2 linked regions of the Homo sapiens genome follow. The main gene of each other region encodes a partner of the protein of the gene in region 2 in a complex. Each region holds a gene or a part of one and is shown on either strand. Other genes may lie near its edges.

Region 1 (7,037 bases), on a different chromosome or scaffold from region 2:
TAGGTTTTTCTCTGTTCTGCATGTGAATGTGGTGCTGTGGCATTTTGAAAGGACTGCAGGGGCTCATCAAACTTGTGGGTGAAAACTGAATTGTTCAGCCTGTAAAATAACAGTGATGGTCTCCACCATCTCCATTTTTTAAGAAAAAGATACGCTGGGGCGACAGTTGTACCTGTGCCTCCTCTGCGGGGTAGAGACGCCTCCAGGAGCACATGGGGACTGTCCCTATGTGTTCCTGACTGTGTGGACACTTATTGCTTACCGTGCTCCCTTGCTGCCTTTTTGTGTGCTCAGCTTTTGACTGCAAAGTAGACTTGTTGCCTTGCCAATTCGTTCACTCTTTAAACCCTTTTATCTTGTTATTAGGCTGCTCTTTGGCGTAAATTGCAATCGATTAGGGATCGTTTCTCAGAATCAAGTTAGAAGTGAGAGTTCAGATAAGTGAGGCCGCCATTGCTGCTTTGAACACCTCAGAAGGGGAGAATGGATTTATCAGGAGTGAAAAAGAAGAGCTTGCTAGGAGTCAAAGAAAATAATAAAAAGTCCAGCACTAGGTAATCCTTCTGTAAGATTTTTCTAGTGCTACTTGGGGGTGCTTACTGCTAGGGACCCGCAGAAAGGGGAAAGTTGAGAATGTTCTGCATTCTACAGTGAGTGTTCTGAGCCACAGACCACTTTGCTCTGTGGTCACCTCGGGTCTCTGTGGCCCTGCTGATGCTGATCCCCCGTTTTGGGTTGTGCTGTTTGGGTTTGGTCAGAGGAGCACGCAATCTCACACTCTTCCTCACCATCCAGGGCTCCTTCACCTACCAAACGCAAAGACCGCTCAGATGAGAAGTCCAAGGATCGCTCAAAAGATAAAGGGGCCACCAAGGAGTCGAGTGAGAAGGATCGCGGCCGGGACAAAACCCGAAAGAGGCGCAGCGCTTCCAGTGGTAGCAGCAGTACCAGGTGGGGCGGGCTGGCCTGGAGCCTGGAGAGGACCTGTGCCACAGCTACACCCCCACTCCCCACAGATGGCTCGGTTTTCTTGATTATTTACAAAGAAAACACATCCTCTGATTGTTAGTAGAGACCCTAATTTATGGCAGACTGGCTAGGTGCAGTGGTGGCTCATGCCTATAATCCCAGCACTTTGGGAGGCCGAGGCAGGAGGATTGCTTGGGGCCTGGAGTTCAAGACCAGCATGGGCAACAAAACAAGAGCTCGTCTCTACAAAAAAAAAAAAAAAAGAGTAATTTGTAAAATTAGCTGAGCGTGGTGGCATGCATCTGTAGTCCCAGCTACTTGGGAGGGCTGAGGCAAGAGGATGGCTTGAGCCCAGGAGTTTGAGGAAAATAAACAAAACTAGCCGGGTGTGGTGGTACACGCCTGTACTCCCAGCTACTCGGGAGGCTGAGTCAGGAGGATGGCTTGATTCCAGGGGGTTGAAGCTGCAGTGTGCGGAGATCATGCCACTGCACTCCAGCTTGGGTGGCAGACCCTGTCTCAAAAGAAAAAATCAACCTAGCCTGGGTCAGCATCAGCCAGCAGCTGCCTTCCCAGCCTGAGTTGGCAGTTGTGACTTTTGCCAGAGTCCTTTGCCTCCCAGCAGGAAAGGCTTCTGTATGGGTAGAAGGCAGCCCATCACCTCTGTCCTGTCCCACACACAATGTGACACCTAGGGCTCTGACTTGCTGGGGGATTGGGGGGTGATGTTTTCCCCACTGCTGAAAGCAGTGAGGCCTGGAGGCACCCGAACAGCAGGTTTCTCCTGGGGGGAGCACAACAGAATTGGAGGAGGCGTCTGTACTGTGAGACTTGGTGTGTGGTGGTTGTGACCCCTCATCTTGCCCTCAGGTCTCGGTCCAGCTCGACTTCCAGCTCAGGCTCCAGCACCAGCACTGGCTCAAGCAGTGGCTCCAGCTCTTCCTCAGCATCCAGCCGCTCAGGAAGCTCCAGCACCTCCCGCAGCTCCAGCTCTAGCAGCTCTTCTGGCTCTCCAAGTCCTTCTCGGCGCAGACACGACAACAGGAGGCGCTCCCGCTCCAAGTGAGTGCCCTGCGCCTGGGAGCTAAAGTTTACAAGCTCGGGGCTACAGATTTACCATCGAGGTTATAAAAGGGACCCAAAAGGAGTCTTTCTGTGTTAATAGGATTTCTGAGACAGGAATAATGTATGTGAACTAGCAGGAAAGTCTTCCTTATGAAAACTGTCACACAAGCAGATAAGAGCTTACTCGAAAGGCGTCTAGTACATTTTGACTTGACAGAAATTGTTTCTGGTGTTTTGTTTTCTCAATCAGATCCAAACCACCTAAAAGAGATGAAAAGGAGAGGAAAAGGCGGAGCCCATCTCCTAAGCCCACCAAAGTGCACATTGGGAGACTCACCCGGAATGTGACAAAGGTGAGGATCATGGATCTCTCCTGTGGGCAGTGGGGTGTGGACAAGCAGGCCTGTGCCTGCAGATGAACTTAGAATGTAGCCTTTTGGAGGACTGGGGTGGTGGCATGTGGTTTGAGTACAGCATTGATTCGTTCCTCTTGGTGGACCATTAATACATGTGTCTGGGAGATTTATCCCAGAACAACACTGGTACTCATCAGATGGAATGTTTTACCCTGCCGAGGTTTTAGTCATGATGTGCTGAGCTCTCTGCGTCTGACGTGACTGACTGGTAGCTGGGCGTTGGCGTGACCCTTCTTTCCCTCTAGGATCACATCATGGAGATATTTTCCACCTATGGGAAAATTAAAATGATTGACATGCCCGTGGAAAGGATGCATCCCCATCTGTCCAAAGGCTATGCGTACGTAGAGTTTGAGAATCCAGATGAAGCCGAGAAGGCGCTGAAGCACATGGATGGAGGTGGGTGACCCTGCCACATAACCCTGACCTCTCAGAGACCCGCCGCCGCGAGGGGCTTTCAAACTGATTTCCAACTGGGCTGCACTTCTTTTTGTTTGTTTGAGACAGAGTTTCACACTTGTTGCCCAGGCTGGGGTGCAGTTCCTGGACCAAACTGAGGTTTGGGCTGCTATTTCTCATGGCCCAATAACAAGATGCACATTAACTGAGTAGGTGGAGTTTTTATTTCTGCAACCAGTTGCAGGGAAAAGGCCTGGAAATTATTGCCAGACCAACTTAAAATTACAAAGTTTTTCAGAGCTTATATATTTTTTAAGCTATATGTCTATACATATGTGTACATTTATGTAAAGACATAAGTTACTGACTTTTAATCTATTAACTAAGGATTGAGTCTTGAAGACCTTCCTCTGGAGCCTCAGTAAATTGACTTAATTTAAATGGCTGTGAGTGCTGGGGTAATTACCCTTGCTTTGCCTTCTGCTAAATCACAGCAGTTTGGGGAGTTTTCTTCCCAATAAAACTGGCTTAATCCTAAATGGGTCCTGACGTATTCTTCGTTATTTTATGTTTTAAGGCCCAGGAAAGGCCTAAGCTAAACTTTTGGTGGGCTTTTCTTATATCCCAGCCTTTGTATAAGGGCCTTGGCTTTTAATATTTAACTACTCAGACAGTACTAAAACACTTGTTACAGAGGCCTGCGTTAGTGAGACCTGGCCTGCCACAATCCCCACTGTCAATTTGCTCATGCTTTTTATCATGCATGTATATGTATTTATTAATCACGAGAATCGTAGGGAGATGAAGCATTGTAATCTTTCTGGCTGCTTCCTGCTGAGAGAGGGTTGTCGTCATGGGGCACCAAACACAGCGCTGGAGTGGAAGAGGTGGATTTGTTCCCGGTAGCACTTTCTGTTCTGGGGGCTTCGAGGCAGCACCTGCTGAAACGTAATAGGATGCAACAGCCACACATAGAAGTAGGTTGCTGCTGTTTTCTTCCCAAGTTTAGTCTTCAGTTTACAGGGCTTGAGGAAAGCATAGCTTAGATTTCAGTGATTTCCAATTAGGAAAAAGGAAACAAAAAAGGAAAAAATTGAGAACAGTATTTGGGTGTACTATAGTTTTTGAAACAATTTTTTTTTTTTTTTGAGACGGAGTCTGGCTCTGTCGCCCAGGCTGGAGTGCAGTAGCACCACCTCGGCCCACTGCAAGCTCTGCCTACCAGGTTCATGCCATTCTCCTCCCTCAGCCTCCCGAGTAGCTGGGACTACAGGCGCCCACCACCATGCCTGGCTAATTTTTTGTATTTTTAGTAGAGACGGGGTTTCACCGTGTTAGCCAGGATGGTCTGGATCTCCTGACCTTGTGATCCGCCTGCCTCGGCCTCCCAAAGTGCTGGGATTACAGGCATGAGCCACCATGCCCAGCCAACAATTTTTTTTGGGGGCTTCCCATTTTTATTAAAAGACAAATAGGACTGGTATTTATTAAAAGACAAGACTGGTTTGCTTTATTATATTTGGCTTAATTATTTGTATACAGTGGAGCAAGAACCATAATTTTTTCTATAGGCCTTTTATCTGAGATAATACCTTTTTAAACCCAAGCCCAGCCATGGATATGTACAATTAAATACCTGTGAGTTGGGTGAAATCCTCTCCTCTTGAGGTTCCAAGATAACTTGAGGTTTTTGTCCATTAGAAAGTGGCATGTTTTACTTCCCTCAGATTAGAAACCCTGTACAGGGACTGTGTACACAAAATAGGAGGCCGGTTTTTTATTTGTGTTCTGTTACAAAAGAAAACGGATTTTTATTGCACTTACGCAAATAACTATATTGCTATAAATTAAGAATACGTACAAATAGACTGGGCAACATGGATCACCTGAGGTCAGGAGTTTGAGACCAGCGTGGCCAACATCGTGAAACCCCGTCTCTAATAAAAATACAAAAATTAGCCGGGCATGATGGCACACACCTGTGGTCCCAGCTACTTGGGAGGCTGAGGCAGGAGAATTGCTTGAACCTAGGAGGCAGGGATTGCAGCGAGCCAAGATTACGCCACTGCACTCCAGCCTGGGCAACAAAGTGAGACTAGGTCTCAAAAAAAAAAAAAAAAAAAAAAAAAAGAATACACACACACACACAAATAGTTTCCAAATTCTGAAGAAATTAGGTAGAGAGAAACAAATATGCTCCAAGTTTTGTTCCTAGGCGTATACTTAATTGTTGATAGCTTAAAACTTTTTTTGACTTTGAAAAATAAAAGGATTAGGAATATTTTAAGCAAAAAGTTAAAAAGATTACTTCAGTGTTCTATTAGTTCAGTTTATGCAGTTAATTTCTGCCCTGCTTGATATTAATGAACGCTTTACCTTTCTTTTTTTTGAGACGGAGTCTCGCTCTGTCGCCCAGGCTGGAGTGCAGTGGCGCAATCTCGGCTCACTGCAAGCTCCACCTCCTGGGTTCACACCATTCTCCTGCCTCAGCCTCTCGAGTAGCTGGGACTGCAGGCACCGGCCACCACACCCAGCTAATTTTTTGTATTTTTAGTAGAGATGGAGTTTCACCCTGTTAGCCAGGATGGTCTGGATCTCCTGACCTCGTGATCCGCCCGCCTCAGCCTCCCAAAGTGCTGGGATTACAGGCGTGAGCCACTGCACCCGGCCTTATTTTAGCTCTTTAAGAGTCCTGAATGTTTTTTCTTTATTCTGATGTCACAATCTGCAAAGTTATTAGAAATCTGTATTTAAGAGCAACTGTTAGAACTCTATAGCTGATTATAAAACCACCTTCTAAAAAGGATTAAAACAAGACAACAATTGTTTATGGATGACAAAAAGGTTTTAGGGCAGCCATAGTTAAAGACACAATTGACGAAATTTGTTAGCTCTGTGGCACACAATAATTTAACATAACAATTATAATTATTACTGATCATGTACACTAGGATATATTGCAATTGTAGGAGTTTTACGTGATTTTGGGACACATATCAATAACATTTATACAAATACAGCCCAAACAAAGCCAAACCCAATTTTATATTTGGTAGTGCTTCCTGTATAATTTTTGGTACCAAATAAGCCAAATTTCACTTTTACATCAGTGTGCTGTTAATGTTAAAACCCAATCCTTTTTTTTTTTTTTTTTGAGACTTTTTTCTGCTCTTGTTGCCCAGGCTGGAGTACAATGGTGCAATCTTGGCTCACTGCAACCTCCGCCTCCTGGGTTCAAGCAGTTCTCCTGCCTTAGCCTCCCGAGTAGCTGGGATTACAGGCAACCTCCACTATATCCAGCTAATTTTTGTATTTTTAGTAGAGACATGGTTTCACCATGTTGGCCAGGTTGGTCTTGAACTCCAGACCTCAGGTGATCCACCCGCCTTGGCCTCCCAAAGCAGCTGGGATTACAGGTGTGAGCCACTGCGCCCGGCCTAAACGTAATTTTAATGCTTAATTTACAGAAAAACTAGATGATACCCCTTTAACTTTAGCCAGCATGTTTACATACAGAATTTTCTTTACAATCAACCTCCCACACCTTTTTTTGAGACAGAGTCTTGCTCTGTCGCCCACGCTGGTGTGCAGTGGCATGATTTTGGCTCACTGCAACTTCCACCTCCTGGGTTCAAGCAATTCTTCTGCTTCAGCCTCCCCAAGTAGCTGGGATTACAGGCTCCCGCCACCACACCTGGCTAATTTTTGTGTTTTTAGTAGAGATGGGGTTTCACCATGTTGGCCAGGCCTGTCTCAAACTGCTGACTTCAGGTGATCCTCTCGCCTCAACCTCCCAAAGTGCTGGGATTACAGGCGTGAGCCAACGCGCCCGGCATGGATTCCAGTTCTTAGTGGGTGTGTGATTACCGAAAAGATGTTTTAGGAACACCTTTTTTTTGTAGCTCCAGTTTAAAGGAACACTATTCTTGGGGGAAAAAAATTAGCAAATATGCGTAGATTAACATTTTAGAGAGTTTCCAATCTGTTAAAAGCTTAAGGATCAAATTCAGTTTTCTTACATAGAATACATTTGGCTTTTTATATGGGAATATTTCCTTTAATCATTTCTGAGAACCAGAAGTTTCCCAGTATTTCAGCATTTTTAGTTTATTTTGCTGAGTGACTGGATTTACTGAATCTATACAGTTTATTTCTTAAACACTTGTATCTCATAACCACTCATGACGT
Region 2 (6,516 bases):
GTTTATTGGGATGTAGCCCCATAATAAGCTGAGGACCGTAGTGAATGGCTTATCGCTTATGCGCCACTGCAAAGCTGAAAAATCTAAAGTTGAACTATCATAACTTGGGAACCATCTGTGTTTGGCACAAGTAAACACTTAAATCATAGTTACAAACTTGATTTAGAGTGTTGCCTTCTATTTCACAAAAACAAGTCTGAAATGTGTTTAATTGAACAAGAAAGAGGTGCATCAAGTTCAGCTCCTTATTATGTTCAACTTTAGAGAATTTTAAACCTAGCCTAATAATGTTTCTTTCTACATTCACACCTGCCCCTCACATGCATACAACCGATACCTAAAACATTACCTGAGTCAATGATCAGCTGGGCATAACCGTCCCAGTTTTTGTACACCGTGAAAAACTAAAAAGACATTATAGGCAATATCATGTACTGTAACACATATTCCAAAGGGAAAACGTCAATTCCAAAATACCTAGGAGCAAATGAGGCAACCAGGGCAGACACTAAAGCACTGAGCAAGATGCTGTCATGATGACTACTTATTTATTTCTATTTTATATGCGGGGAAACAGCTCAGTTATTACTCAAAGCCACACTTACCAAAGCCAGAGGTAAACTAGTACAAGTCTTTTGATTCTTAGCATTATATTCAATAAATTCACTAGGTATTCTCTAACTGTACTTTTGATGGGATATTGAAATCTTTAAAGGAGAAATTCCATGTTGGAACCAAGCAAAGGGTGGAATTTGACAAAGCAGCCCAACCACTTTGGCTTACAAAGTCCTTTATTTAGTTCCTACCCTCTTCATCTGCATAGTAAATCATAGGGTTCCCCCCCACCCCCACCACGAATAGCAGTTAATCATGGCTATTCTCCAAAAAGCTAGGTGCAAATTAACTTTATGGCTCCAGTCTATCTAATCTGAATGAATAAACAACCTAAAGGTTTGGGGTAAACCACAGCACAGAAGAAGCACCAGATCTAGGCTCCAGGCTGGTCTCTGCCATTGCTAACAGGGACACCAATTCCACAGAATCATCAGATTTTAAATGGCTGTTTTTGTATGTACCAGATAAAACTAGTGCAATTTTATTGCTGCTGGTACTTTTTTTTTTAAATTTTGGGATATACATTTTCAATTGGCTACTGTAACAAACTAAAGGGAATTTACAATACACTGTCGTACTGTTCATAAACTTCAAAATGAGAGTAGTGCCATGGAAGAAAAGAGATCCAGTTTTAATACCACTTTATGGCCAATAATCAGTATTTATTGTTTCTCATTTGTCAGGCACCATTCTAAGCTCTTTTAAAATATTCAGTCTTAACAATCCTATAGGCCGTTATCTCCGTTTTACAAAATAAAGATTGAAATAATTTATCCAAGGTTGCAGAGTCACTGCTGCAATCAGGACTTCAATGTTCTGCTGCACTGTCTTCATCACTGCTTTACTGCCTCTCAGATCAGATGCACGCCACTACCTAGCACACAAGAGGATGTGTGAACACCTCCTACTCATTCAACCTGACCTTGTCCTTGGCTCTTCTCCCTCGGTCTTAAGATTCCTCCTTCACCCCTCCCTCCATTTGCAGATCTCCAGGGTTAATTAAACCTTTCTACCTCTACCCAAACCCTTGTTTCCTCTGAACTGGTTCCAGCCTTTAAAATGCCCTATTCCCCACATGTTAAAAACTTAAGTGCTCATTGTGTTGCCTGTTCTTTAACCTTTTATGTCATGGTACCCTGATCAAGGCGGGGCAATCTCGTCCAACACAGCTTCTTCAACTTGCCGCAGCTTATTCCAAACTGCCTCTGCTGCCACTTGAGCTCACTCTCACGTGTCCTTTCCAACTGCATACAGCAGTCTACACCACAAACTCATGTTTGATTTCATACAATCCCGTGGCTTTCTTGTTCTGCCCCTTTGGGCTTAACCATACGCTCCTCCACTACTTAGTATAAACCCTGTTCCCAGGCCTCCATTAACTTTCACACTCAGGCTGATTACACACATATATTTAACAGTACAGTTTTACACAGAATGCTAAGAGCACTTTTCTTCATATTTTACAGAAGGGCTTGAAACATACAGACTATTCGTAATCATACAATAGCACATCCAAATCTAACTCCTAAATAGATGATGCATTATAATTTGTTTAGAATTTAAAGGCTTAATGGCAATAATCAGGGGAGGAAGAAGAGTATGTTTATTTTACATAACTGACGGAAAAATAAATTCAACAAATAGTAAATAGAATTTAATATGGTCTCATGCGCCCTGAAGGAGGTGGTGCCCGATTTGGAGGGGTAATTGCTATGTCCAAGTAATCTCCTATCTGGAACTTCTGCGACTGCAGGGTCATGGAATCATCAGTCCCCTTTCTGCCAGACATGGTGCTGCCAATCTCCTTAACTCTGTAAGAAAGAAAATCAACTGTTAATGGATCCAAATCAATGAAACCCAGTATGTACTACAAAGTGAATATGGCACTGGATTTTCTCCATCATTTTATAACACACTTCCAAAATTTAACTACTTTATTAAGCCAAACCACGTATTAATATAAACCCATATTCTCCCACTAACAAGATTCATTGAAGGAGTTATCTGTATCAGTTAAAACATACTAAAAACAAAGAGATTACAGGACTTAAAAATGAGAAGTTACCTACCGATAGCCAGGTCTTTTAACATCTGTAAAAACGATTGCAAAATTGAAGTGAGTGCCCTTCTTTCTAGCTTCTGGGTAGACTTCTTTTACTAAGCTTGTCAGTTCTTTCAAGGTTGCATCCATCCTGGATTTTTTTTAAAAAAGACATTTACATTTGCTTATTAATCAGCAATAATATTAAAAGGGATACTAACAATGAGTTAATTACATATATCTGAGTTGTGATTTACATTAGAAACTGCCAGGGTCTTATACTAGAGATTAATTTTAAAGCAGCTAAAAATACTATTTGCCTCCAAAAACTCCATGTACCAGCCTTACTGCTGGAAATTTCAATTAATTAGACTCTTAGTGCTAAAAGGGACTTCAGAGATTCTATATGCTATCTTCTGTTGCTACACAACACCTTATGGCCTAGTGATTTACCTAAGGGTAACTAGTCCAAATAAATCCAAATATGCAAAATAGATGTATCCCATTAGTTCTAAGACATGTACCCTTCCACATTTTAGCATCTCTGAAATTGGAATGTATCTTAGAATCAATGTACTAGGAAAGCATTTTCATACTGACGTTTTGTTTTTGAGAGAGTCTCGCTCTGTCGCCCAGGCTAGAGTGCAGTGGCGTGACCTCAGCTCACTGCAACCTCCGCCTCCCAGGTTCAAGCAATTCTCCTGCCTCAGCCTCCTGAGTAGCTGGGATTACAGACGCCCACCACCACGCCCAGGTAATTTTTCTATTTTTAGTAGAGACAGGGTTTCACCATGTTGGCCATGCTGGTCTCGAACTCCTGACTTCAAGTGATCCACCTATCTTGGCCTCCCAAAGTGCTGGGATTGATTACAAGCGTGAGCCACTGCGCCCAGCCAGATGTGTTTCTTCTTTCTTAGATAGAATTGTAAGTTTTACAACAGATAAGAGTACTAGAGCCAATGAAATATACAAAAGTTTCTTACAATGAAGCACAGGCTCTTGTCACAATAGTTTCTTACCCTGCAAATATTGACTTGAATCCAACTTTCATATAGTCCCCTGAGCTAATAAGAGAACAATCTGAAAAAAATATTTTAACATATAAGCATCTTAGAAATAACCTAGTATACATTTTTTTGCCAGGTGCGGAGGCTCATGCCTGTAATCCCAGCACTTTGGGAGGCCAAGGCGGGTGGATCACCTGAGGCCAGGAGCTCAAGTTCGAGAGCAGCCTGGCCAACATGGTGAAACCCCGTTTCTACTAAAAATCCAAAAATTAGCCAGGCGTTGTGGCACACATCTGTAGCCTATAATCCCAGCTACTCGAGAGGCTGAGACAAGAGAATCGCTTGACCTGGGAGGCGGAGGCTGCAGTGAGCCAAGACTGTGCCACTGTGCTCCAGCCTGGGTGACAGACTGAGACTCTGTCTCAAAAACAAAAAAACCTGAGGTCACATTGGTTTATCTGTCTCAGAGGTGACCTTTTTTCAACCTGATATTTTGATGTTAACTATTCTGTATCAATTATAGGTTCAGTATCCCTTACCCAAAATACATGGGACTAGAAGCGTTTTAGGTTTTTTCAAATTTTAGAATTTTTGCATATACGTAAGATATCTTGGGGTTGTGACCCAAGTTTAAATAAGAAACTCATTTATGTTTCAAACATACCTTATACACAGCTGGAATACAATTTTATACATCATTTTAAGTAATTGTGTGCATGAAAGGAAGTTTGGTGCACGCCTGTAATCCCAGCTACTCAGGAGGCTGAGGCAGGAGAATCGCTTATACCTGGGAGGCAGAGGTTGCAGTGAGCCGAGATCGCGCCACTGCACTCCAGCCTGGATGACAGAGCAAGACTCTGTCTCAAAAAAAAAAAAAAAAAAAGAGGTCAAGAACTTATGTGTGCAATTTTCCACCGGTGTCACGTCAGCTCTCAAAAGTTTCAGATTTTGTGGCATTTCAGATTTTGGACTTGCGATGCTCAGTCTATATTCTGATACACAGTACATACTTATGATGATATATACCAGAAAGAATTTTTTCCTTTCTAAAAATATTTTCAATATTGTCTTGCTCTTAATTAATTTGGGGGATTTATATCACACCTTTTATCAGTTCTGACAGTGTGAAACCTACACAAGCTTCCCACCTTCTAAGGACTGTCTTTCCAGACCAACAATTGGAGTGCCAAGTGTTGCTTTTTCATCACTAGTCAGAAGCTTGAGGACAGGGTGGGGTTCAGTACTTGTGTCAGCTTGACGAAGCTACAGTCCCCAGATATTCAACCAAACACTAACCTAGGTATTGCTGTGAGATATTTTATAGATGTGACTAAAGTCAACAACCAATTGACCTTAAATTCAGAGGTCTATCCTATATAATCTGGGGAGGCCTGATTCTATTAGTTGAAAGGCCCTAAGAGCAGCCTTTCCTTCCTGAGAACCTGCCCTACAGATTTGACAATTAAGGGCCTAGACAGCCCCCACAATCACGTAAACCAAATTCTTTGCAATAAAGCTTTTTTTTTTTTTTTTTTTTTTTTTTGAGATGGAGTCCCGCTCTGTCGCCCGGGCTGGAGTGCAGTGGCGCTGATCTCGGCTCACTGCAACCTCTGCCACCTGGGTTCAAGCAATTCTCCTGCCTCAGCCTCCCAAGTAGTTGGGATTACAGGCACCCGCCACCATGCCTGGCTAATTTTTGTATTTTTAGCAGAGACGGGGTTTCACCATGTTGGCCAGGCTGGTCTCCAACTCCTGACCTCATGACCCGCCCACCTCGGCCTCCCAAAGTGCTGGGATTACAGGCGTGAGCCACCACGCCCAGCAGAAATAAATCTCTTAACACATCTCTCCCAATTCTGTTTTTCTGGCTGAGCCCTGATTGACTTTGGTGAACACAGCCTGCCTCTACTGGGCTCCTCTGGACTTCCACTCCTGTTTCCATAACTTCTCTTGGGACTGCCTATTTAACCCCACAGTCTACTTCTCCAAATTGAGAATTTCCAGTATATGTTAACTAATTTTCCCTCATTACTATTTCTGGGAATGAGGGCAGGCCTTTGTGTTACCCCCATACCAATCATCCAGTCTTTCAGAATCTTTTCTTTGGCCACCATTTTGAGATGTAACTTAAAGTTGTTCCTTCTTTGTTTGGTTGCAATTTATGGACGGTATAGTTTAGGACAGGATTTTTTTGGTAATTTTTTTTCTTGATTCAGAGTGGAAGGTCTGTGGAACAACCTCACCCTGCCATTTTAACCCTAAAAATCACTCTATTCATCCGCTTTCCCTGATAAAAGGACTTACTACAGGGAGGAGCAGTACCGTCTTGACTTTATACCCTCAGGATCTAAGCACACACAGCACCTGGCAAATAGGAACTCTTGTTGGAAGAAACATACACTTTAATTTCTGAAGAGATTTTCATCAAGCCATTATTCAACAGTTCTTCCATATAAGCTAAATCAACCTTCCTAGAACACTTACCCTTGAGTGATGCTTAAGTACAGGTATCATACTACTACATAAATTTAACAAGCACCTCCAAATAAGACAAGTAAGGTCCCAATCTTCAAGGGATTAGCTCTAGTGTACAGGGCTTAAATAGTTTAAAATTATACATCTTTTGGGGAATATAAAATAGTGCAGCTGCTGTGAAAAAGTTTGGTGGTTCCTCAAAAATTAAACAAAGTTAACATATGACCCAGTAATCCCCTCCTAGGTACATACCCAAAAGAACTGAAAGCAGCGACACAAACACATTTGTATGCCAATGTTCACAGCAGCATTATTCACAATGGCAAAAAAGGTGAAACAACCCAAGTGTCCATCAATAGATGAGTACATATGTGATGC

Evidence for each region.
Region 1: SAP18 (region 2) and RNPS1 share a complex: the UniProt entries of both Homo sapiens proteins name them as parts of the heterotrimeric ASAP (apoptosis- and splicing-associated protein) and PSAP complex.

What each region holds. Positions count from the first base shown.
Region 1 is NC_000016.10:2,258,090-2,265,126, reverse strand, and holds part of RNPS1 (RNA-binding protein with serine-rich domain 1), read left to right. Parts: intron 1-366; 5' UTR 367-483; coding exon 484-554; intron 555-795; coding exon 796-951; intron 952-1,839; coding exon 1,840-2,031; intron 2,032-2,284; coding exon 2,285-2,387; intron 2,388-2,695; coding exon 2,696-2,849; intron 2,850-7,037. UniProt on the Homo sapiens protein: Part of pre- and post-splicing multiprotein mRNP complexes. Auxiliary component of the splicing-dependent multiprotein exon junction complex (EJC) deposited at splice junction on mRNAs.
Region 2 is NC_000013.11:21,143,096-21,149,611, reverse strand, and holds the end of SAP18 (histone deacetylase complex subunit SAP18), read right to left. Parts: intron 4,521-6,516; coding exon of another isoform or gene 4,328-4,520; intron 2,808-4,327; coding exon 2,685-2,807; intron 2,427-2,684; coding exon 2,270-2,426; 3' UTR 515-2,269; downstream 1-514. UniProt on the Homo sapiens protein: Component of the SIN3-repressing complex. Enhances the ability of SIN3-HDAC1-mediated transcriptional repression. When tethered to the promoter, it can direct the formation of a repressive complex to core histone proteins.